Regions from separate parts of the Homo sapiens genome. Here all the other regions are reported to be linked to region 3. Evidence: microRNA targets listed by miRTarBase, many of them from high-throughput screens and not tested one by one. Region 3 holds a microRNA gene; each other region holds the end of a gene's coding sequence. Distances are from middle to middle.
The links. The annotated mature microRNA hsa-miR-3688-5p reads AGUGGCAAAGUCUUUCCAUAU and lies in region 3 at 3,151-3,171, opposite strand. An mRNA with a match to its seed (bases 2 to 7 or 8) in the 3' UTR can be bound and repressed. Matches are read on the target gene's strand: a 7mer-m8 pairs with bases 2 to 8, a 7mer-A1 pairs with bases 2 to 7 and ends in A, and an 8mer does both.

Region 1: the mRNA of CD9 is a reported target of hsa-miR-3688-5p. Seed matches in the 3' UTR shown: 7mer-m8 at 4,548-4,554.
Region 2: miRTarBase lists THAP6 as a target of hsa-miR-3688-5p. Seed matches in the 3' UTR shown: 8mer at 2,280-2,287.
Region 4: the mRNA of LAPTM4A is a reported target of hsa-miR-3688-5p. Seed matches in the 3' UTR shown: 8mer at 4,439-4,446.
Region 5: miRTarBase lists PABIR2 as a target of hsa-miR-3688-5p. Seed matches in the 3' UTR shown: 8mer at 3,129-3,136 and 7mer-m8 at 2,977-2,983.

Annotation. Positions count from the first base shown.
Region 1 is chr12:6,237,375-6,242,481 of GRCh38, reverse strand. It overlaps CD9 (CD9 molecule), which reads right to left. Exons shown (of 8, transcript NM_001769.4): 8 at 4,216-4,719. The coding sequence ends at 4,654. It overlaps LOC105369625 (a long non-coding RNA gene), which reads left to right. Exons shown (of 5, transcript XR_001748979.2): 4 at 2,649-2,836. Among named protein-coding and RNA genes, the nearest start is that of CD9, 40 kb to the right of the region's middle. RefSeq lists enhancers at 259-759, 760-1,260.
Region 2 is chr4:75,526,539-75,531,645 of GRCh38, reverse strand. It overlaps THAP6 (THAP domain containing 6), which reads right to left. Exons shown (of 5, transcript NM_144721.6): 5 at 1,620-4,686. The coding sequence ends at 4,432. Among named protein-coding and RNA genes, the nearest start is that of THAP6, 15 kb to the right of the region's middle.
Region 3 is chr4:159,125,710-159,130,816 of GRCh38, forward strand. MIR3688-1 (microRNA 3688-1) reads right to left here and starts at 3,185; the gene lies at 3,093-3,185. The region is part of intron 1 of RAPGEF2 (Rap guanine nucleotide exchange factor 2); the gene reads left to right. MIR3688-2 (microRNA 3688-2) reads left to right here and starts at 3,096; the gene lies at 3,096-3,182.
Region 4 is chr2:20,028,473-20,033,579 of GRCh38, forward strand. LAPTM4A (lysosomal protein transmembrane 4 alpha) reads right to left here. Exons shown (of 7, transcript NM_014713.5): 7 at 4,178-4,807. The coding sequence ends at 4,733. Among named protein-coding and RNA genes, the nearest start is that of MATN3, 18 kb to the left of the region's middle.
Region 5 is chrX:134,767,995-134,773,101 of GRCh38, forward strand. It overlaps PABIR2 (PABIR family member 2), which reads right to left. Exons shown (of 10, transcript NM_001387468.1): 10 at 1,572-4,289. The coding sequence ends at 4,145. Among named protein-coding and RNA genes, the nearest start is that of PABIR2, 27 kb to the right of the region's middle.

The sequences.
Region 1 (5,107 bases), not on the chromosome of region 3:
TTACAGGCGTGAGCCACTGCGCCCGGCTGTATTTAGTAGTATTCCAAGTTATCATTTAAAACATTGACCAGGAAAGAACATGGCAGGACTGCACAGGCCACTGGTAGAGACCTCTCCCCCTTGTATGGTTGTGTTCACCCAACCACGATATGCCTAATTGTGCTGGAATTCCACCCATACCACTCCAACTTGTGCCCAAGAAGCTTATGAGATATCCTGGCCTGTCTGTCAGTGAAACAATTCCCTGTACACCTGGAGGACTCTAGGAAATGAGAGCATCATGGAATGAGCCCCTGGATCTATGTGGAGTCTTGGCCCCACCCTTGGCCACTCAACTCCCTCTGGAGGACGTGGTTTTGGAGAGTAGGGCCTTGGGAGGAGAGTCCGGGGGGTTTATGGATATTAAAGCACTTTCAGTCCTTGAGGGCACTGGGTAAAGTAATAGCCTTTTACTAAATCCAGCTGCTTTGATTCAAATTTGTTGCCCCTGGGCTGCTTTTCACAGTTGAGCCAAGAGGCCAACACCTCCATACAACTGCTTCTCTTATGCTCAAGGAGATTCTTTCTGGACCCAAAGCAGTTGTTGCTTTTGGCAGTGTCTGTTGCCTTTTTGTGACCTAAAACTTCCTAAAGGCCTTTGCTCCAAGGCCCTTCAGGACCCGAGAGCAGCAGGCTGTCCTGGTTCTCCCTAAACTGCAGAGCTACACCTGGCCCTGTCCGCCAAGAGTCAAGGGAGGCTCGTTTCGGCCTGATTGTGGACAGCCAGCTCCTTTTGGGATGTCTGCCAGCTTTCAATGATCCCTTGTCTTCTGGCGCTGGGCCCAATCAGCAGGTCACAGAGGGTGGCTGAGTGTTTCCTCCACGCACCCCTCCCTGCCCGCTGCTAGCTGAAGGAACAGAGGTAGACATTTGACTCAAACTGGGTCAAAATTTTCTCTCCTAAAACTTCAAGTGGGGCTAATGGAGGTTGCCTCTGTGTAAGCTTGGGAGCTGGGGGGCAGCCGGTCGGGAAGCGGCTGAGTAACAAAGTTGGTCTCCTCGAAGAGCAAAATATAGTAGCGCAGAAATGGAGAGCTGTAGGAGTTCTTGGTCCATGTTTCTGGAATCTTCCTAAGGCTCAACCATTTTCATTCTTGCGTTAATTGCTCACTTTTGCTTAAGCTAGCCCATTTGTCCTTACATTATTAACAACAAACAGAAAGGCAGGATATAGATAGCCCCGAGGTGTTCCAGGATTTAAGTAGCTGCAGTCTGTTCCACGCTAACCTACCCTTCAGCAAAGCTGCAGCATGGAATGTGCTCGTAGCCTCTGAGACCTGCTTTCTCTAGAAGGAGCTGGAGGTTACACGCAGGGGTCTCCTCCATTCCTATATAAAATGAATGGTTGGCCAGGCGTGGTGGCTCACGCCTGTAATCCCAGCACTTTGGGAGGCCAAGGCGGGTGGATCACCTGAGGTCAGGAGTTCAAGACCAGCCTGGCCAACATGGCAAAACCCTTCTCTACTAAAAATACAAAAATTAGCTGGGCATAGTGGTGGGTGCCTGTAGTCCGACCTACTCGGGAGGCTGAGGCACGAGAATGGCTTGACCCTGGGAGGCGGAGGTTGCAGTGAGCCGAGATCATGCCACTGCACTCCAGCCTGGGAGACAAAGCGAGACGACATCTCCCAAAAATAATAAAATAAAATAAAATTAATGGTTGACCTGTTACTTCCACAACGGGAACAGTCGTCAGCCGTCAGATTAATAAGGGACCTAGGGCCACAGAGCAGCAAGGACACTCAATAATGCCAAACCAGCTATTTTTTTGTGTGTGTTTAGTAAAATATAATACACAATTTACCACTTTGACCCTTTTTTTGTTCTTTTTTTTAGACAGCGTCTTGCTCTGTTGCTTCGGCTGGAGTGCAATGGTGAGATCCTGGTTCACTGTAGCCCTGACCTCCCAGGCTCAGGTGATCCTCCCAACTCAGCATCCCAAGTAACTGGGACCACAGGTGTGCACCACCATGCCCAGCCAGTTTTTTTTGTTGTAGAGTTGCAGTCTCACTATGTTGCCCAGGTTGGTCTTGGACTGGGCTCAAGCAATCCTCCCACCTCAACCTCCCAAAGTGCTGGGATTACAGGTGTGAGCCGCTGTGCTCAGCCCATTTTAACAATTTTTAAGCATATAATGTAGTGGCACTAAGTATATTCACAAAGTTTTGCAACAATCACCACCATCTATTTCCAGAACTTCTTCATTATCCCAAACAGAAACTCTGTACTCATTATACCATAACTCCCTATTTTCCCTTCTCCCTAGCCTCTGGTTACTTTTAATCTACTTTCTTTATAAATTTACCAATTCTAGGTACCTCCTATCAAGGGAATTGTAGAATATTTGTTCTTTTGTGTCTGGCTTATTTCAATGAACATAACGTACTCAAGATTCATCCATGTTGCAGCATTTAAGGTGGAATTCTAGCCCATCATATGGATAGGCCACGTATTGTTTATCCATTTATCTGTTGAAGGACACTTGAGTTTGCACCTTTTGGCTGTTGTGAATAATGCTGCTATCAACTTTGGTGTTCTGATGTTTGAATGTAATGGCATTCAGGGACATTTTGATCCTTCTTTCCTGGTTTTCTTTTTGTAATGTTAAGGAGGAACCCAAATGGAATCAAGGAGTGGAACATAAAAATCGGTTTCTTATGCCTCTGCACTTCACCTTTCTCCTGTTCATCCCACTCTGCCATCATTGCCTGCTTGCCTCCGAATTGCCCACGACAGTGCAGTCTGGGCACGGATCACACCTCCCATGCAGCGGTGGCTTTGTGATCTGTCCACCTGGGTAAGCTGAACCACACTTCCCAGAATTCCCTTCCCGTGTGTTTCCGGTTAGAGTGGAGCACAGAGGAGAAACTTGTGGAAGGTTTGGAGGTGGGAAGTGAAGCAGCAGTCATTTTACAGCTCACACGAATTGTGGCTTCTCTGCTGGCTCACCTCAGCAGAGGCAGGAACTGACATGGGGCCGGGTGCAGTGGCTCACGCCTGTAATCCCAACACTTTGGAGAGGCCAAGGCAGGTGGATTGCTTGAGACCGGGAGTTCAAGACCAGCCTGGGCAACATGGCAAAACCCTTCTCTACAAAAAATACAAACATTAGCCAGGTGTGGTGGCTCATGCCTGTAGTCCTAGCTACTTGGGAGGCTGAGTTGGGAGGATTTGCTTGAGACCAGGAAGGTCAAGGCTGCAGGGAGCTGAGATTGGGCCATGACACTCCAGCCTGGGCAACAGAGTGAGACCCTGTCTCAAAAAAACAAAAAAGAACTGACACAGACGGATGTGTCTGCCTTCAAGGGCTTCCACTTGGGCTTGTCCTCCCTTACTTTATATCCGTCTGTCCTTCCCGATTGTCTGCAGAGCCTGCTTAAGCAGCCCCAGTGCCAGTGACTGTGTAAGGTCAAATTCCCACAACAAATCTCTTCAAACAAGTACCTCTTAGTGGTTCTGCTTTTCTGATGAAACCCTGATGGGTACACACTCATTTATTCATTCAACCAAAAAATATTAACTGATAAAAAATACTGAACACTACCATGCACCAGATACTAGGTGCTAGGTAGTGAATAAAACAAAGTTCCTGCCACCATGGTGTGAGGTGTACTGTCATATCCCCAAGATATACCCCACTGCTGAATGAGCGTCTGAGGACCAGGTGCTGGTGCTGACTCCTCTGTTGACACCTGTGTGACTTTGGATCAGAATCCTTTAATCTCTCCACATCTAGATTTCTTCATTAGTAAACTGGGGTGAGCAACCTCCCAATCTACTTCTCATATAAATGCAGGTGGGGCCGGGCACGGTGGCTCACGCCTGTAATCCCAGCACTTTGGGAGGCTGAGGCGGGCGGATCAACTGAGGTTGGGAGTTCGAGACCAGCCTGACCAACACGGAGAAACCCCGTCTCTACTAAAAATACAAAATTAGCCGGGTGTGGTGGTGCATGCCTGTAATCCCAGCTACTCAGGAAGCTGAGGCAGGAGAATTGTTTGAACCCAGGAGGTGGAGGCTGTGGTGAGCCAAGATCGGGCCATTGCACTCCAGCCTGGGCAACAAGAGCGAAACTCCGTCTTAAAAAAAAAAAAAAATGCAGGTGGAGTTAATAGGAGTTGAAAGACATTTGCAAACCAAATAGCTCTCAAAATAATTAAACAAAACAAAAACCAGTCCAGGACATTGTCATAATTTTTTATTATGTATCAAATTGTCTTCAATATAAGTTACAACTTGATTAAAGTTGATAGACATTTGTATCTATTTAAAGACAAAAAAATTCTTTTATGTACAATATCTTGTCTAGAGTCTAGCAAATATAGTACCTTTCATTGCAGGATTTCTGCTTAATATAACAAGCAAAAACAAACAACTGAAAAAATATAAACCAAAGCAAACCAAACCCCCCGCTCAACTACAAATGTCAATATTGAATGAAGCATTAAAAGACAAACATAAAGTAACTTCAGCTTTTATCTAGCAATGCAGAATGAATACTAAAATTAGTGGCAAAAAAACAAACAACAAACAACAAACAAAACAAAACAAACAAACAAAAAATCCCACCAATCTTCATGGGTAAACTTTCCTGCTCAGGGATGTAAGCTGACTCTAGACCATCTCGCGGTTCCTGCGGATAGCACAGCACAAGATCATACTGAAGATCATGCCAAATATCTAGGAGATAGGAAGAAACATGAGGATCAGGGTGGTTTGATCTGAAGGAAGGCTGAGGGAAAGGGAGAGACATGGGTCACCCAGTCCAAGAAAAATGACAAGGAGAATGGCATCCAGGAGGCCAAACGAGTCAGAAGGTGCTGAAGCAGGAGAGATGCAGGCCAGATAATGAGAAGGGTGCGGGACGTGAGGAATCTGGGGGGGTTGGCAGTCAGCTGCACAAGCATTTTCCTTGGAGAACTTTCAGGGTGGGAAAGTAAGCTCAGAGCCAAATTTAATGCTCAAATTCCAGGTTTTCCTATAGTCCTAGTCCATACAGGTTAGTACTTTTGCATTTGTCTTTGTGTGTATGTTATTTAATACTCTTTTTTTTTTCTTTTGAGATGGA
Region 2 (5,107 bases), 84 Mb from region 3:
TTATAAAGTGCTCAGTCTCGGGTATGTCTTTATCAGCAGTGTGAAAACGGATTAATATAGCTTCTTTGCCCTAATGCAGGACAAGTTTGGAAGGTCATCTGTGTTGAGGTCCCCAAGAGCACACACACAAGTTTCATGATTCACTAGAAGGACTCACAGAATTCGGCATATAGTTGTACTCAAGGCTATGATTATAGCAAAAGGATACAAAGAAGAAGCACAATCAGCTAAGGGAAAAGGCACATGGTACAAAGTCTAGAGGAAACCAGGTGTAGCTTCTGAGTCCTTCCTCAGTGTAATCACACAGGACACATTTAAGTCTTATAGTGCTGAACTGTGACAATACACGTTGCCTACCAGGGAAGCTCATTAAAGATTCAATGTTCAAGGTTTTATTTGGGGCTGGTCATACAGCCCCCCTTTACCTAACAGATTCTCAAATCCAGACTCCCAGAAGGAAACTGGGTGTTCTGCATAAACCACCTTGTCTGTACAAACAGTCTGGCACAGTGAGCTACTCTTATCAGTTAGGGAATGGTGGAATCCAAATTTCCAGATGCCACTCAAGAACTAACCTTGCAACCTTGCAGGCCTTTCCAAGGATAGCAGTTTCATGCCTATGTTAACTCATTTTTGTGTATGACCCCAGTTTCAGAGTTTTCTGTGGGGCTCACTGAGGTGCTACCTTTACAGACATACAAGATAGACATGAATGGTGGCCTCCACCATCTCTCTTCATTTAATTCACCATTCTGTCCCCTGCAAAATTTAGACAGACCCTGCAAGATGACAGTTGGACTAAGGACAATTCAACCAACGAGTAGCCCTGATTACAGCTGCTATGCATGATGTGGCATCTTTGTTAGAGCAGATTAACATGTCTATGGGTAGATGCCATACAACCATTGGGTGCATGGTTTTCCATCCCTATTAAAGGATCAGAAACAGCTCACATTCACATGGAAAAAACCACAGTATACATATATGGTCTTGTCCCCAAGGTTATGTTAATGATCTTGCTTCTGTTATAATTGAAAGAAGTCTAGACCAGACAGACATTCTATGGAAAATCACTTAGTTCACTCTACTGATGGATTATGTTAATCCAATGGGAGGACTAGTTAATTGGAGGCCTTGATAAAGCACATGTGCTCCAGATGGTGAGATAAAACTTATGAAATTCAGGGGCCTATAAACATCAGTAAAATTTTGGGGGAGAAGTATCCAGTGATCTGCGGCATGCTAAGACATCCCCTCTAAAGTAAGAGACAAGTTATTTACAACCTGTATGTTCCACTATGAAGAAGAAAGCACAATGCCTGACAGGCCTCTTTGGGTTCTAAAGGCAGCATATTTCACACCTAGGAATGCTGCTCTCCTTTATATACTGGGTGACATCATATCTGACAGTTTTGAGTGAGGGCCAATGCAGAAAAGGGCTCTATGATAGGTCCATATTGTGCTGAAAGCTGGCCTGCTACGTGGGTCATCTAACCTTGCAGACCCCATATTAGAGTTATTGGTGGAGGAGAAATTAGAGCAAAACCTCTACGTACGTACTCTTCATTTTTCTCTGCCCATTTTATTGAATAACTCAATGTATAAAACCACATAACACATTACTGGATAAAATGTTTTATTTTTCAAATAAATTATAATAGATTTTCTCTCTCTCAATTATTTCTGTAATAATTTTATCTTTTTATTAAAACTAAATATATATTAAATACATTTCACCTTTTCTCAAATTACAGACTATGGTATAACTGTAATTGTCATTAGCAACCAAAGTCTATTTCCAGAAATTTAAACTTGATATAGAGAAAAATTCCACGTATCAAGCGCTTCGTACCTGACTTGGTGCTGAGGTTGAACTGTTGTATTAATGTGTTCCTGGCTCTAGAGGCCACTCCTAGCTTTTAAAGCAAAGTGGAACCCTTAGGGTCAGGCTTGGCTGCCAGAGAAATTTCTGGAGGGGGATGACTTGGGTTTTGCTTTACACAGGCCAGTTCTTTCCTGGGCTAGGGTGGAATCTCTGGGAACAGAGGACTGAGATACATACTGTGTTTAGGCATTTGTTTGGAGCAGCAGGGAGGACCCTATTTTTAATCTCACATTTCTATCAGTAATTGCTTCCCTATTAGAACAAAGAGAAAATGGGCAGCTCTGGGTCCTTAATGATACCAATATTTTGCACACAGTTATTTATTTCTCAGTTATACTAGGTCCAGTGAAAAAGAAGTGCTGAGTCTACTATGAACACAAGTAGTAAAAGTGACTGTGGCAATTTTGATAGTGGCAGACTGGGATTTTACTCTTGGAAAGGTCTTCCAGGTTTGGTGTATTCTAAGCAGCCAGTAGAGTGCTAGAATTTAGACATACTGTGTTTGGATCTACCCTCTTACTTACTCCATTGTCTTACTTTAATTTATATATTCACAAATAGGGTGAGGGAAAAATAATCTCTATTGAAAACATCTCCATAAAACCTAAGATCATACCCAAACTTTCCATTAGGGTGGCCATTTATGAACTCAAAATTAAGTAACTAAAATAAATAATGGGTAATTAATGAAAGTAGTTTTGTTTTTTTGAGATGGAGTCTTGCTCTGTTGCTCAGGCTGGAGTGCAACGGCGTGATCTTGGCTCACTGCAATCTCCGCCTCCCGGGTTCAAGCAATTCTCCTGCCTCAGTCTCCCAAGTAGCTGGGATTACAGGCACGTGCCACCATGCCCGGCTAATTTTTTTTTGTATTTTTAGCAGAGATGGGGTTTCACCATCTTGGCCAGGCTGGTTTTGAACCCCTGACCTCAAGTGATCTGCCTGCCTTGGCCTCCCAAAGTGCTAGGATTACAGGTATGAGCCACCACCCGGCCTTTTTTTTTTTTAACTACCTTTTTACTACTTTTTTTTCAGATTGTAAAAAGATATGGCCTCAGTGATTTCCTCTTAGCATAACGCTGATCTCGCAGATGTGGGTTAAATCCCATTTAGAGGGAAGGTTTGGAATCCTACATAAAAGTATAACATGCATTAAAACAGAAAATTCTTAAATACAAAAAATTCAAGTGACCATATCTTAACTAATATTAATGTAACAAAAATAAAATTACAATAAACAACTGAGCACAAAATGCAATTCAATTTTTGTTACTACAATGAAATGGCTGATACTCAAATTCTAACTGCTACAACATGGACTTCTGAATGAGGTCCATGTATGTACATGTGCTTCTAAGTAGAGTGTTGCTTTGGCAAATGGTTTTTATTCTAACCCACAGTATTTATGACTCTCAATTTCAGTTGTTTTCGGTAAGGAATTATGACAAAAGCTAAATTTATGAGACTTGGATCAATTAGGAAATAACAAGGAATTATTCTTTTGCATATTCAGTAAGAAGCTATTCTAAAGCTGCTGTTTTAATTACCCGTTTCTCTAAATAAAAGCCTTTGGACAATAATCTACTCCCCTAATTAAAATATTCTAATCCTTTCTCTCCAATTCCTATTTCAACTGGAAGAGCCACAGTTATTAATTTCTAATGGTTTCTTTTGTATTTTGTATTTTTTTAAAATGTCAGCAATACTACTTTACATATAAAATACAAAGCAGTATTAAAAGTATAGAGCTAGTACTGCCATTCAGATTTTAAACATATACCTTTATGACGAAATAGTCATGAAGCAAAGTGTTCAGATCTGTCAGAGCAACCAACCATTTAAAAATCAGATCTACGATCCTTTTTGTCTTTTTAAAGCTATTCTGGTTTACATCAAAGTGCTCCTAGTGAGGAGGAATGATGTACTGTACTGAAAACTGAGACTTCATGAGGGGTCTTCTTAAATTGGCTGTGAACAATTTTAAAAGCCCACAGATCTTCACTATGTGTTATTCTCAGAGTCAATACCACAGGAAGCCTTGTAAAAAGATCCTTTGGTACTACTGATAGCTAAAGCACCTTGGATTGAATCCAAGATGGATATGCATTACAAATGAATTGTGCTTTGTAGTAAAATGCATTTAAAGTAAAATTCAATGTACTTACCATAAAGCACATGTAAGTAAAGGTACTCCTTTGAAGCCAAATATCTGGAGAAGTGTCCAATTCCTTCTACTATAGCTTAATGTGACTAATTTGACATCATTTCTTTAGCTCTGTGAAATTTTCTTGAGATTTTAACATCTTACAATAGTGACCTGGCACTAGTGTAGGTCTATAAAACATAATTGTCACAAGACACAAATACATAATTACCACAAATTTCTGCATATTTTCAAAAAAGTCTTTGGATAACAACTATAATGCATAATGCTCCAGAGAATCCAAAGCAGCACTTTAAATGATGGATATTATTTAGTGATGGTAAATGAGATTTTATAAAAATTTGTACCAATGACAATTTTAGGTGGAACGTAACATGAAATTATTTCATGAAATATAGTCCTGTTCTATGCTCTCCTGACAACAGTCCCAACAGAAAGTGTCCAGTCTATTTGCTGTTTCTTGGCTGATCAGACATTCATCCTTTAATTCCCTGATTGTCTTCCTCAATGATTTCTGAAAACGTTTTTCTCGGTCTAAAACATTCCGTAGACTTTCCTTTGTATCCTCTAGCTCGCCGATCACATGATCTAATTTATGCTTAAGTTTCTTTGGACTGTCCATTACACTGTAGCTATGTTCCTAAAAACATAAACACCAAGTTATTAAATCAGACAGATATGTAGTTGGATAAAAGCTTATAACTAGGTCTAAGCTGTTTCTTCATTTACAATGCCTGGAGAACATTTTTAAGTTGGTGATAGAGGTTTAAGGAACACAGGAAGAAGATGGGGGTAGAAGCAATATTTAGGGTGCTAAGGGCATCCCTCCTTTTACTAAGGCCAGGCATACACAAAGACTGCAGAATATTATGGATGGGAAGCACTTATCTCTATGAATAGCATGACACTTGCAATGACTCTACAGCTTTTGTTCATTCAATGTGGTGCTGCTAAGTTTAATTTTTACCTATCAAACAAATTTAAATTAAGTTTTTAACTGGGTTACTTTATTGGATGGCTATTGCATTTGATAAGGTGTGACAGGAAAAGAGTACTGCAGC
Region 3 (5,107 bases):
ATTGCGGCACTGCACTCCAGCCTGGGCGACAGAGTGAGAATCTGTCTCGAAAAAAAAAAAAAATAATAATTCGCTGTTATAGTCTGTGCATCTATGACAATTTTATCAATATGTGTTAAGAAAAGAGGCTGTTCCAATTGGATTTTGGTTGTTAGATGTGAAATTACTTAGTTGAGAGCATTTGCTTTCATCATGGTTCAGGAGAGACACTGACCACTCAGAATTTGGCAACAGTATCTTGCCAGTGATGTTAAGTATAACTTTGTAGAAAAATGCTAATGAAAAACTTACTACAATGTGTCTGCTATCAGAACTCAGCACTTCCCAATAGCAATGTTGCTAGTGTTTATTCTCCTTTAACTACTTGGTCAAAAATAACTGGGTGATATTTGAAAGTATAAAAATTGATTATCCTCAATTTTTATGTTTTTTATGAAAACAATATTTTTTTGGAAAGGATTGAATACTATTTAAGCCTTCCTTCAAACTTACTGTGTAGCATTTTATACATTTCTAGTTGTGATTTTTATTTTTTAAAGGACGAGAGTTAAACACAATTTTCAGGAAAACACCTATCTCCAAATTGGTTGAAACAAAATACAAAATAGCATAGGAGAGAGCAATTCTAGAAACCTTTGAAAGCCCAGTGTAAAGCAATTCATCATTCTTACCAAGCTGGGTGAAATTTTTAAAAATAAGAAAGTCTCACCAACACAACTTAAAATCTGGCTTTTTGCATATTTTTAGTTTTCTTTATATATGAAATAAGTGAAGTAATTTTGATTGTAAAATGTCATTTATTCTATCTCCTGTCCAGGTTTTAAAAAAAAAAAAAAGCCTGATGCCTCCCTGTCATCTCTCAGAAGATTTTAAGACTTTCTCAGAATTTTCTTTTTAACTTACTGGATAAACACTCCTCTTTGCTGATTGTGAAAATGACCATCTTAAAAGTGTTTACAGGAACCCACACTTATCCTTTTCCCCCTCTGCTTTTAGGCTAGGTCATAATTTCAGTTTCCCTTCATTTTTATTTTTCTCAGTTGATTATAAGATCAGAGCTACAAGAGGAAAAATGCTGTTATAGACCTGTTTATTTAGGATGGTCTTTTAGAGGAAAAAACCCGAGTCCTCATTTCTCATTGTCAAGTAGAACCCCATTCATGTGCATGGTAATTGTCAAGAATCATATTTGTAACCACAAAGAACAATAATCTCACACTATCTTCTGGGTAAACTGCTCCTACGTTTGAATTGATTTTGTAAAGAGGTAACTGTGGTTTGTGGATGAAAACATTTGTTTATTTGCATTTTTTGTTGTTGTTGTTTGTTTTCTTGAGACGGAGTTTTGCTCTTGTCGCCCAGGCTGGAGTGCAGTGGTGCTATCTTGGCTCACTACAACCTCCGCCTCCTGGGTTCAAGCGATTCTCCTGCCTCAGCCTCCTGAGTAGCTGGGATTACAGGCACACGCCACCACACCAGGGTAATTTTTGTATTGTTGGTAGAGATGGAGTTTCACCACATTGGCCAGGCTGGTTTTGAATTCCTGACCTCAGGTGATCCGCCTGCCTTGGCCTCCCAAAGTGCTGGGATTACAGGTGTGAACCACCGCACCTGGCCTATTTATTTGTGTTTTATGATACTATTTACCTTCTCACTGCCACCATTCTCAGGGCTTTATCAGTACCCCACAAAAAACACACCTTTTGATTTCCTCCCTTTTTACCTGTGGTAGTAACTCATTTAATGCCATGTTCCCCCCTTCATGAAGCATCTTCTAGTTGCTTAGTCTAGAGGTTGAATTTTTCTTTATGCTGTCACTGTTTTTAGCTTGCGTTTCTTCTGGGCATTCCTTGGCAATGCATAATTTCGTAATTATTAAGTGTACATATCTCATTTTTAAACTGCAGAATTCCTCAAAGGTTAAACTACCTTTATGACCTTTATGTCTCCATGGCGTTTTATAATACCTTAGCATTCCTTAAATATTCAAATGTATAATATGAAGTGTGTTTGACATTCTCATAGTAATAGAATAAGAATACTAATGGGGTATATAGCTCAGTTTGGTGCAGTTTTTAAAATTTAATTCATAGGCAGTTATTTTTATTATTTGAATACAACATTGTTCAGGCTTGTAAATTATTTTAAGACAGTCAAAATTGATTCTTAGAAAATTGCCTGGTTAGGTGATAGCAATTCAAATTTTACTTAGTCACCATGATTTGTGTAAGTTACAGAAGCAAGTCAGAAGCAAAGTCCTGAATTCTAGGCATGGTGTTATGAATCTCTATGCCCTGGACTGCAGTTTATTGCCTTGGATTATATTTAGGTATGTATATATATGTTTGCTTTCCTTGAATTTTGAACTCCCTGTTTTATACATGTACCTTATAACCTTTCTTTTGTTAGGAGATACTTTAAATTGTACGTTCTATTTCATCTAGTAAAATCCAAGAAGAAAAAATACTGAGACTAATAATGTCTTAACTTTTACATTACTGTCAATCTAATAGTACATTTTGGGGCCTAATTCTACTGAGGAAGACTAGCTGGAAGAGAGGGACTGATGTTGTATCCAGTTACTCTCCACGTGACCCTGGAAATTTTCATTGGATCTTAGTTTTCTCACCTGTAAAATGGAACACAATGCTTTCCATACCTATTTTCAGGGTTACGTAAGTTTAATATATGAGAAAGTACTTCGCAATGGAAAAGTCTACATGAATGTAAAGTATTACTATTGCTGACATAATAAAAATATTAGTGTCAGTAGAAATTGTGAGTCATTTATAAAGATAATAGGCTAAGATCTTCTTAATATTCTTAACATTTGGCTAGTAGTTTATTCACCCCTCTTTTTGGTGAATACAAAGCAGTAAAACCATGTTTTCAAATTATTATTTGGTTATGCAGGTTAATACTTATATGGATTATTTTAGAAGTACAGGCTTCATGTTGAGTTTTGTAAAGAGCTTTCTCTTTGCCAAAACATTTTCAGACTTCAAAGAACCATTGTGTAAAAACTCTTTTACACCAATGTATCTTAAATAGTTTTGATCATTTTATTTAAATAAAGAAGCTGAACCAAAAGTTCTTCACTTTAAAGAGTGGCAAAGTCTTTCCATATGTGTAACAGACATACATACATACATATGGAAAGACTTTGCCACTCTTGAAAGTGAAGAGTGTGTGTATATATATACATATGGGGGGTGTGTGTGTGTGTGTGTGTGTGTATATATATATATATATAAATCTATTTTAAGTATATTTTTTGGAATACATATTTGTAGAAGAAAAGATTTGTAATTGTATGATATGAATGGATGCAGTCTTTTGATTATTGAAATCTGTCATCATTCTGTATTTAAATTTGAATGCTGCTATGTGATCTTAGACATGGAGGCAGAAACTTGCATAGAAATGTAATAAGAATAAGAATCTTGAATAGAAATCTTATCGCTTTCTTTTTGAAGAATTTGAAAAGCAATTAGAATTGCTTTCATATTATAAATGCTCACCATTGAAAGGTGCAATATTAATGAATCTTTATATTATGCCTCTAGTTATCTCTTAAGAGTTACTTTGATAATATAGACCTTTTGAAAGTGCCACACTGATGGTTTCAGGTTGCCTGTCAGTGTAATAATACATAATGCTTACAGTTATGGTGTCAGTTCTTTATTTTATGTTTAGGGAGCACATATCTCAGAACAGTTCAGGAAAGACATAGAAAAGCAGTTGTCATTTATAAAGTGTGTGTTATGTGCCAGAAAGTCACCTAGATGTTTTCTTATGGTTTATTCAGTTCTAACATCAACCTTATAAAGCATGAGGTACTATTATCAATTTACCAATGAAGAAACTGAGATGCAGGGATTAAGTAATTTGCTTAAGAACAAATAACTGATTTCAAAGTCCCTATTCTATCCACTCTACTCCCCCTATAATAAGAGCAGGTGTAAATGTCTATGTTGTTGTTAATAAAGACTTTTACAAAATGAAGTTCTAATTTAGTTAGGATGTTTTTCTCTTTTTCGAGACAGTGTTACTGGAAAGGGGTCCCAATCCGGACCCTGAAAAGAGGGTTCTTGGATCTTGGGCAAGAAAGAATTTGGGGTGAGTTCATAGAATAAAGTGAAAGCAAGTTTATTAAGAAAGTATGGGAATAAAAGAACGGCTACTCCATAGAGCAGCCCTGAGGACTGGTGGCTGGCTGTTTTTATGGTTATTTCTTGATTATATACTAAACAAGGGGTGAATTATTTATGAGTTTTCCTGGAAAGGGGTGGGGATTTTCCCCAGAACTGAGGTGTTCCTCCCTATTTTAGACCATACAGGGAAACTTCCAGACATTGCCATGGCATTTGTAAACTGTCATGGCGCTAGTGGGAGTGTCTTTTAGCAATCTAATGCATTATAATTAATGAATAATGAACAGTGAGCACTACCAGAGGTCACTTTTGTTGTCATCTTGGTTTTGGTGGGTTTTGTCTGCTTCTTTACCTTGTCTTATCAGCAGGGTCTTTTTGACCTGTATCTTGTGGTGACCTCTTATCTCATCCTGTGACCAAGAATGTCTAACCTCCTGGGAATGCAGTCCAGTAGGTCTCAGCCTTATTTTACCCAGCCCCTATTTAAGATGGAGTTGGCTCTGGTTCAAATGCCTCTGACAACAGGGTCTTGCCCTGTCACCTAGGTGGAATTGCAGTGGTGTGATTATAGCTCACTGCAGTGTTAAATTCTTGAGCTCAAGTGATCCTCCCACCTCAGCCCCCCAAGTAGCTAGAACTACAGGCATGCACATTTTTCTTTATTCAAATTTCTCTGCTAGGTCATTTTTATTTTAGAGATGAATTTCGGATCTAAAGTCTAATTTTATTAAAATTAAAAATTTTTAAACAATTAGAGTTAGTAGAGTAGGACTGGAAGGGCTTCTTTTAATTTAGACCCAGGCTTAGCGAATAAATTACTCTAAATAAAAGTTATCTATTATTGTTTTATTTTATTTTATTTTTTGGGACAGGATGTTGCTCTGTTGCCTAGGCTGGAGTGCAGTGGCACAATCTCGGCTCACTGCACCCTCCGCCTCTCAGGCTCAGGTGTC
Region 4 (5,107 bases), not on the chromosome of region 3:
TAATATTTTTTCTTTCACATTGACCTTGTATTTTTAGTAGAGACAGGGTTTTACCATATTGTCCAGGCAGGTCTCGAACTCCTGGCCTCAAGCAATCCACCCGCCTTGGCCTCCCAAAGTGCTGGGATTACATGCATGAGCCACTGTATCCAGCCTGAGTTCTGAAATTGAATCAGTAATAATAATACTCCTACCAACTGGAAAAGGTCCCAAACAGATTCACAGCCAAATTCTACCAGACATATAAAGAGCTGGTACCAATCCTACAGAAACTATTCCAAAAACTTGAGGAGAATTCCTCCCTAACTCATCCTATGAGGCCAGCATCATTCTCATACCAAAACCTGGCAGAGACACAACAAAAAAAAAGAAAACTTCAGGCCAATATCCCTGAAGAACATAAATAAGGAGACCTGAAAATGTGGAATCGACTTTGGAACTGGGTAATAGGCAACAGTGTGTGCAGGGGAACTGCCTTTTATGAACCAAAACCCAGCAACACATCAAAAAGCCAACCCACTGTGATCAAGTGGGCTTTATTCCTAGGATCCAAGGTTGGTTCAATATATGGAAATCAATGCATGTAATTCATCACATAAATAGAACTAAAAACAAAACCACATGATCATCTCGATAGACACAGAAAATGCTTTCAATAAAATTCAACATCCCTTCATGGCAAAAACCCTTAAAAAACTATGAGGCATCAAAGGAACGTAACCTCAAAACAATAAGAATTATCTATGACAAATCCACAGCCAACATTACACTGAATTGGCAAAAGCTGGAAGCATTCTGCTTGAGAACTGGAACAAGACAAGGATGCCCACTCTCCCCACTCCTATTCAACACAGTACTGGAAGTCCTAGTGAGAACAATCAGGCAAGCGAAAAAAATAAAAAGCATCCAAATAGGAAGAGAGGAAGTCAAAATATCTCTTTTCACAGAAAATGTGATTCTAAACTTAGAAAACCCCATAGTCTCTGCCTCAAAGCTCCTAGATATAAACTTCAGCAGTCTCAGGATATAAAATCAATACACAAAAATCAGTAGCATTTCTATACAACAATAATACCCAAGCTGAGAGTCAAATCAAGAATGCAATCCCATTCACAATAGCCACAAAAGACTTAAGTAGCTAGGAATACAGCTAACCAGGAAGGTGAAAGATCTCTATAATGAGAATTACAAAACACTGCTGACAGAAATCAGAGACGACATAAACAAATGGAAAAAGATTCCATGCTCACAGATAGGAAGAATCAATATTGTTAAAATGGCCATACTGCCCAAAGCAGTTTACAGATTCAATGCTATTCCTATTAAACTACCAATGGCATTTTCACAGAATTAGAAAAAACTATTTCAAAATTCATATGGAACCAAAAAAAGCCTGAATAGCCAAGGCAATCCTAAGCAGAAAGAACAAAGCTGAAGGCATCACATTATCCAACTTCAAACTATACTACAAGACTACAGTAATCAAAACAGCATGGTACTGGTACAAAAACAGACAGACCAATGGAACCAAATACAGAACCCAGAAATAAAGCCATACAAACTACAGCCATCTGATCTTCAATAAAGTTGACAAAAATAAGTAATGGGGAAAGGACTATTCAATAAATGGTGCTGGGATAACTGGTTAGCCAAATGCAGATTAGAACTAGACACCTTCACCATATATAAAAATAACTTAAGATGGATTAAAGACTTCTATTAGTCTGTTCTTGCACTGCTATAAAGAAATAGCTGAGACTGAATAATTTATAAAGAACAGAGGTTTAACTGGCTCACTCCACAGGCTGTACAGGAAGCATGGCAGCATCAGCTTCTGGGGAGGCATCAGGGAGCTTTCAGTCGTGGCAGAAGGCAAAGGGGGAGCCAAGCATCTTACATTGCAGGAGCGGGAGCAAGAGAGAGAAGGGGGAGGTGCTACACACACAGATCTCGCAATAACTCACTATCACGAGAACAGCAGCAAGAAGGATGATGTTAAACCACGAGAAACCACCCCCATGATCCAATCACCTCCCACCAGGCACCACCTCCAATGCTGGGGATTACAATTCAACATAAGATTCGGATGGGGACACAAATCCAAACCCATATCAAGACTTACATGTAAAACCTAACTGAAAAAACAAAACAAACAAAACCCCTAGAAGGACACCTAAGAAATACCATTCTGGATGTAGGCCCTGGCAAAGATTTCATGAGGAAGACACCAAAAGCAACTGCAACAAAAACAAAAATTGACAAATGGGACCTAATTAAACTAAAGAGCTTCTCTGCTCTGCTAAAGAAACTATCAACAGAGCAACCAGACAACCTACAGAATGGAAGAAAATATTTGCAAACTATGGATATGACAAAGGTCTAATATTCAGAATCTATAAGGAACTTAAGCAAAAAACAAAACAACAACAACAACAACAACATTAAAAGTGGGCAAAGGAGGCTGGGTGTAGTGGCTCACAGCTGTAATCTCAGCACTTTGGGAGGCTGAGGAAGGTGGAACACTTGAGGTCAGGAGTTCGAGACCAGCCTAGCTAACATGGTGAAACCCCATCTCTACTAAAAATACGAAAATTAGCCGGGTGTGGTGGCACACACCTGTAGTCCCAGCTACACAGGAGGCTGAGTCATGAGAATCGCTTGAACCCAGGAGGTGGAGGTTGCAGAGAGCCAAGATCGTGCCACTGCACTCCAGCCTAGGTGACAGAGCGAGGACCCTGTCTCAAAAAAAAAAAAAAAAAATTGGTAAAGGACATGAACAGACACTTCTCAAAAGACATACACATGGCCAATAAGTAAATGAAAAAATGCTCAACATCACTAACCATTAGAGAAATGCTAATAATCAGAGAAATCCATCTCACCCCAGTCAGAACAGCTATGATTAAAAAGTAAAAAGAAACATATGCTGGCAAGGTTGCAGAGAAAAGGGAACACTTACACACTGTTGGTGGGAATGCAAATTAGTTCCATCTCTGTGTAAAGCAGCATAAGGGATTTCTCAAACTTAAAACATTCTACCATTCAACCCAGCAATCCTATTATCAGGTATATACCTAAAGGAATATAAATTATTCTCCCAAAAAGACACATGTACACATATGTTCATCACAGCACTATTCACAATAGCAAAAGCATGGAATCAACCTAAATACCCATCAACAGTGGACTGGATAATGAAAATGTGGTACATATATATTATGGAATACTACAGTCATAAAAAAGAACAAGATCATGTCCTCTGCAGGAGCATGGATGGAGCTGGAGGCCATTATCCTAGGCAAATTAATGCAAGAACAGAAATCCAAATACTCTCACTTATAAGTGGGAGCTAAACATTAAGTACACATGGACACAAAGAAGGGAGTAATAGATACCAGGGCCTACCTGAGAGTAGAGGGTGAGGATCAAAAAACTAGCTATCAGGTACTATGCTCACAACCTGGATGACAAAACACTGACAAAACCCCTGCAACACAATTTACCCATGTTACAAACCTGCACATGTACCCTCTGAACCTAAGAAGTTGGAAAGAAAAAAAATAAGACATAAAAAAAAGATTGCTACAGCAATCACTTTTCAAACCACCGGTATTAATTTCTGTCCTGTGATTCAAGAAATATCTTCACCACAAATTTAGAGTTAATGGATTAAGAAAATGATTTCTAATTAACTGTGCATCATTGTGCAGTTGTCCCTTGGTATCTATGGGGGACTGGTTGCAGGTTCTCCCTCCAGATACCCAAATCCACAGTTGCTCAAGTCCCTTATAATAAAATGGTATAGTATTTGCATATGACCCATGCATATCCTCCCATATTTTTAAAATGATCTCTAGATTACTTATAATATCTAATATAATGTGAATGCTACATAAATTGTTATAGTGTATTTTTTAGAGAACAACGACAAGAATAAAAAGTCTGTACATGTTCAGTACAGATCCAACTATCCATTTTTCCCCCCAAATATTTTCAATCCACAGTCGATTAACTCCATGGATATAGAACCCATGGATACAGAACCCATGGATACGAAGGGCCAACTGTATTCTCAAAGTTAAAAAAAAAATAAACACTGGCACTCTGAATACACTGTAATGGAAAATGTCAGGGTTTATCTTAAAAAAAAGTAACGGATTAAAAACAATGACAACCCTAAGTATTTAAAGAGATTTATTAAATCATCTTATCACAAAGATGGAAACATATACAAACTAGAAACATGCAACCATCATCTTCCACAGTCAAGTCACAATGTCAAATATTTTTCTTGCCTCTGCAGATGAAAAGTTCAGATCTTATACCCAACTACTTACTCACCCCGAATATTTAAGTCAGTCTTCCTGAAAGTACTCAGGGTAGCAAGTAACAAAATGCAAACGATTATATAAAGAAAGTGCAGTTAAAAAGGAAACTATGTGGCAAGTACCCTCTTTCCCTTCCCACCCCCCAATTAAAGGCAAACAATGGCACTTTGCTCTTGCTTAACCTAGATTGTCTTCAAAAACTATTAAAATGTAAAAGACTTAACAAAAAAACAAAAAGACGTTTAACAGATGTCAAAAAGCTCCTTAGTGTTTGAAAATAAATGCTTAAACAAAAGACAACATATTTTATATCAAACAAGTTTGAAGAGCCCTGAATTGCAGCATTCTGTAACATAAACAAACAAAAAGCTGGTATAGGATTTATTGTCAAAGGCAGAATTTCTTCAGGCAGGTAAGTAAGGAGGTGGTGGTTCTTTTTCAGGCATTTTCACGGCCATTTCATAGGTTGGCAAAACGTACTAAAGAGAGAAAAAAAATTGTATCAGATTTAATTCTCCTTTAAAATCCTTTGTGAGATAATTCAGCTTTCAGACTTTATGCCCTAAATAGGGTTATACAAAACCATAAAGAAGAGCTGAAGAAACTGTTAGCTAAAATGTTCCCAAGTAGATGCCTCAATAACCTGGAATTTTACCAAGATTGCTAGCGAAGGGGAGGGTGGAGAGAGGGAGGTGGGGAGAGAGAGTCCTGCTTCTGGACAAGGATTCCTAGACAGGCAGGCAGTGGGTGCCATTGCTCTGCCCTCATTCCAGTGTGAC
Region 5 (5,107 bases), not on the chromosome of region 3:
ATATATATATGTATATACATCCCCCCCACACAGAGAGACACAGGGAGAGACAGAATGATAGTGCATATATAGGAGAGACAGATAGACAAAGCAAATGTGGTTAAATGTTAACAATTAAGGAACCTGGGTGAAGGATATATAGGAGTTATTTGAGCTACTCTTACAACTTTTTTGTAAGTTTGAAATTATTTCAAATTTCAAAATGTAAAGGTTTTTTTTTGTTTTTTTTTTTTTAAACAGTCTCGCTCTGTCACCCAGGCTAGAGTGCAGTGGTGCAATCTCAGCTCACTGCAACCTCTGCCTCCCAGGTTCAAGCGTCAGCCTCCCAAGTAGCTGGGATTACAGGCGCACGCCACCACATCCAGTTAATTTTTGTAATTTTAGTAGAAACAGGGTTTTGCCATGTTGCCCAGGCCGGTCTCAAACTCCTGGCTTCAAGCAATCCACCCGCCTTGGCCTCCCAAAGTGCTGGGATTACAGGCGTGAGCCACCATGCCCAGCCCAAAATGTATTTTAAAATAAAGCAGCTCATGTTATTTCTTAAAAACTGAAGATAGGGCCAGGCGAGGTAGCTCACGCCTGTAATCCCAGCACTTTGGGAGGCTGAGGCAGGTAGATCACCTGAGGTCAGAAGTTTGAGACCAGCCTGGCCAACATGATGAAACTCCATCTCTACTAAAAAATACAAAAATTAGCCAAGCATGGTGGCGGGCGCCTGTAGTCCCAGCTACTCAGGAGGTTGAGGCAGGAAGAAATGCTTGAATCCAGGAGGCAGAGGTTGCAGTGGGCAGAGATTGTGCCACTGCACTCCAGCCTGGTCAACAAGAGCAAAACTTTGCCTCAAAAAAAAAAAAAAAAAAAAGAAACTGAAGATAAACTTAATAATCTGAATCACACATAAAAGGCTTTTTGCCTGTTTTTTGTTTTTTTAAGATGGAGTCTTGTTCTGTCACCAGGCTGGAGTGTAGTGGCACAATCTCGGCTCATAGCAACCTCCGCCTCCCGGATTCAAGCGAGTCTCCTGCCTCAGCCTCCCGAGTAGCTAGGACTACAGGTGTGCACCACCATGTCCAGCTAATTTTTGTATTTTTAGTAGAGACGAGGTTTCACCATGTTGGCCAGGATGGTCTTGATCTCTTGACTTCGTGATCTGCCTGCCTCAGCCTCCCAAAGTGCTAGGATTACAGGCGTGAGCCACTGTGCCCGGACCCTTTTGCCTGTTTATCTACCCTCATCTTTTTCTAAAAATAATTTATAGAGGCTTATCAATATGTAAAAATTTTAACAAGATAAACCAAATTGAAAACGAGGAAGAAAGATGTATGACCCTGGCAAGAACCTTCTAAGTTGTCAAATTCTACAAAATACTCTTGAAAATTTGATTATGTGGAGAGGTTTCACTTCGTTTTGGCAAACAGCCCCAACTTCAACATAGCTATTCGTTCTTTTGTGTTTCTGATATCCTTTTATTCAAACTTGACCTGCAATTAGACACAGAGAATAAACTACTGGGATATAGGGGCAGAAAATAATTATTATTAAGAACAAAGGACAGACTTTTAAAACACTAGTAAATTTTATGCATGTATACACACTTTATTAAATTTGCATTCTAAGATATACACAAGGCCAGCATTTCACAAAACTTCCTATTATTCCAAAAGCAGTAATCATGAAACAGTGATTATATAAGTCAATCAAGCAAAAAACATTATCTATAGGGTTGTATCATATCATCTCTTATACCTGTTTTCAAATAGAAGCCTGAAATATATGATATATATTAGAATAGGAAGAGAGAATTTTACTTTATAACAATCGCTTTTCAAATATTAGACTTTATATAAAAATAAAGGGGTCTTAACAAAGTTCATCTGTGAGTTAGCATATCTCTTTATTTCAAAACAATCCCTGCAAAAACTTAACTTTCCAGTCCATTTAAACAACAAAAACTAAAAATGAAGCTTGGTTTAAATAATAAAGTGAATCATCTTGTCTCCTAGTTCTCACACCATTGGAACAACTTCCATTTCCTGACCTAATTCTATCCCACCATTGAATTTCAAAAATTAATGTAAATACCATCATATTTCAGTTATTTCTTAACAGTGTTAAGTTCGAGCCTAAAAATGATGGCCAAGTGTCCCTTTAAGGCAAAGAAGACAGTAGGTGGATAAATATCCTGAAAGACAAAACCATCTATTATCATTATAGAGGCAGAACATTTTGACATGATCTTTTACAAACAGAATAGATACACTGCATACCATCGAAGAATTTTTTCTTTATAATGGCATACTAGGGGACAAGCTTCATAATAGATTTATGTTACGTTTGAAGAAGTAGAGACTTTTCCCAGATGAGAGCAATACAAGAAATAAAGCCATTAATGGCTGTTATGGTTACAATTTAAAATAAAGGACACATCGGATGCTGTAACAGAAGTACTGCACGCTAAGTGATGCTCTCTTGTAATTGAAAGAGAATGGGTTTCCCTTCAAACCATATGCTATTACTAGTCTCTGAGTGCCTTCAAAGCACATACTCTTCCTTTAAAATCCAAGGATCCTTGCCTTCAAAAGACACAAATGCAGTAGTTTTCATTTCTTACATTCACTTAAAAATGGATTATGATTCCAGCAGGCAAATCTGCATATTAAATATAGACAACCCAACCACAGTATCTGAACGTTAAAAGAAATCTATCACGACAGACATTTTACCTAGTTATAAATAACGTAACAATAGATCACACTCAGATTTCTTAAACAGCTCACTCAGGAGTTTCCTCTTTTAAAAATTAAATAACTTATGGTACCTCACACTTATAGCACATACACAGTTCATAGCTGAAACAGCTTCTTAAAAGCAGAATGCACAATCACATTGACTTTTTCAGCTTCTAAAAGCTTCTTTGTAGATATTAAACTGCCCTCACTACAAGGCAGTATGAACAAGAACTGGATTCTGATTCTGGTGGCAACACAATAACTATAAGGCAGTAAGAACAAGAACTGGATTCTGATTCTGGCAGCAACACAATAACTAAAACACCATTCACCACATGACAAAACAAACAAATCCAATGACAAAAAGGAATCGGAAAAAAAGCAGCAACAGAAACAGTATGTGGCAATCATTCACATAAGGCCCCTCTTCCACCATACCTTATGATATACATCCCTTATAGCATGACAATGTACCCCAAGGCACCTGAGGCCTCATAATACCACTCGAGACACTGACAGCTCCATGGACGCTTTTGTACACAGTGGTTTGTGTGTAAATAACTATTCATTCATTTGTAGATGCTCCACACATCTGGTCAAGGCAGGAATTTCTTCTCCTTGATAACACCACCTAGAAATATCAACAATATTTTATATATTCCTTAGGGCAACAGGTTTGAGGAGAAATATATCAACTGTGGTAGCAAAGTCATAAGAACCTGTGATGACTAATCCAAGCATCCTGTAAGTCCGTTTACATTCTCAGCACTAAAATCAATGCTCACTTCACACACCCCAACAGCAAAGAAGCAATAAGAGTAATGAAAGCAACTACGTATTTCTTCCCCTCTGTGAGAAATGGCATAAGCGGCTCAAACAGGAAAGGGAAACAAAATAATGTACTTGAAGCTGATGCAGAAAAATAAAAATTTAATATAATTAAAAGCAATTTATATATCATCATGAAATAAAGAGAGATTTGAAACTATGTAGTCAACAGAGGACAAAAAAAAATCTCTCAAGCAAGAGAATTTCTGATCAAATCTGTCATATCACTGCTGCGGAAAAGGACCATTAAAGGCAATACACATCAGTGCCTTTCTTAAATGTATAGACTCAAAATAGGTGTTTTTTGAGGCACTAAGAAAAAAGATTCCTCTAAGCAATCAAAAATCAGCATTTGAGATTTAATCACTAAATCCAAAATGAGATCAGCAAAACCAGATACTAGTAAGGTCACTAGGCTCACAAAATTGAACTTTGGAGAAGAGAGATGCCAAAGAGTAATAATAGCATCAGAATGTGTGAAATCTGTAAAACTTTAATCCTCATTATGGATCAAAGTTCTCTGCGTTCCCCACTAAACATTTTATGTAGGAAACAGCAGTTAAAACGTTGAATCAGAAATGGTTAAGTCACTTGGGTGAGAGATCATCCATCAAGATGAACGAAGAGCATGAATTGGAGCATGCTACTGGAGACTCTGCGGTAGCGCTGCCTTTAGCCAGCGGGTCTGAGGATAAGCCACTGCTGCTACTACTGCCATCCAAAATATCTGAACTGAAGACAAAGCAAAAAGAATTATAAGCAAATGCAACTATCAGGGTAAACATAACATGCAATGACACAGTTTCAAGAGCTCACAAATCAGTAAATCACTTGTAAATAATAAAAAAGCATAAAGCCACAGCAATGAACTACATAATATACTACATTATAAAGCCACAGAAATCCAAAGTAAGACTCTTCGAGGTCCTGTATCATTTGATTGTCCCCCCTAGAGGCACCAGACCGCCTAACCTACAATAAACGTTCCTCGTGACATGCCATGGTTTTCGGGAGGGAGTTCCTTCACTTCACTTCAGCTCAAGAAATTTCTATTCTTATGTTTACCTTCCCATCAGGCTTGGAGCAAGAGGAATGGTTACTTATTGAGGTAACCATACTCGGACTATCAGAGGTGTTCGATCAAGTACACTGCCTCATAGTTCCTCTACTCTAAAACAAAGTCTTTCAACTCCCCTAGAGTTATCACTTCCCCATTCCCAAAGGGCCTTCAATTCAAACACATTTTTTAAATGATTTCCCCCTCCAATTCTATGCCATTTATAATTCCTTACACTATTTCCTTTCTTCTTGCTTTCAAAACCCAAAGGTCTATTTCTAGAAGAGTCCCTTTCTTTGATCCCTTCAGTTATTCTCCAGTTAAGCTTCTACAATGAATAATCTACACTTGTGGTCTCAATACCCGTTGTCTATTGCCTCTTTATCCTGACAACTGGCTCCTGTTCCTATCCTTCCAGTAAAACTCCAGATCTGGACATCAAGAACCTCTATACCCAGCCCAGGGATTCCTTCCCTATCCAGCCTGGGGGCTC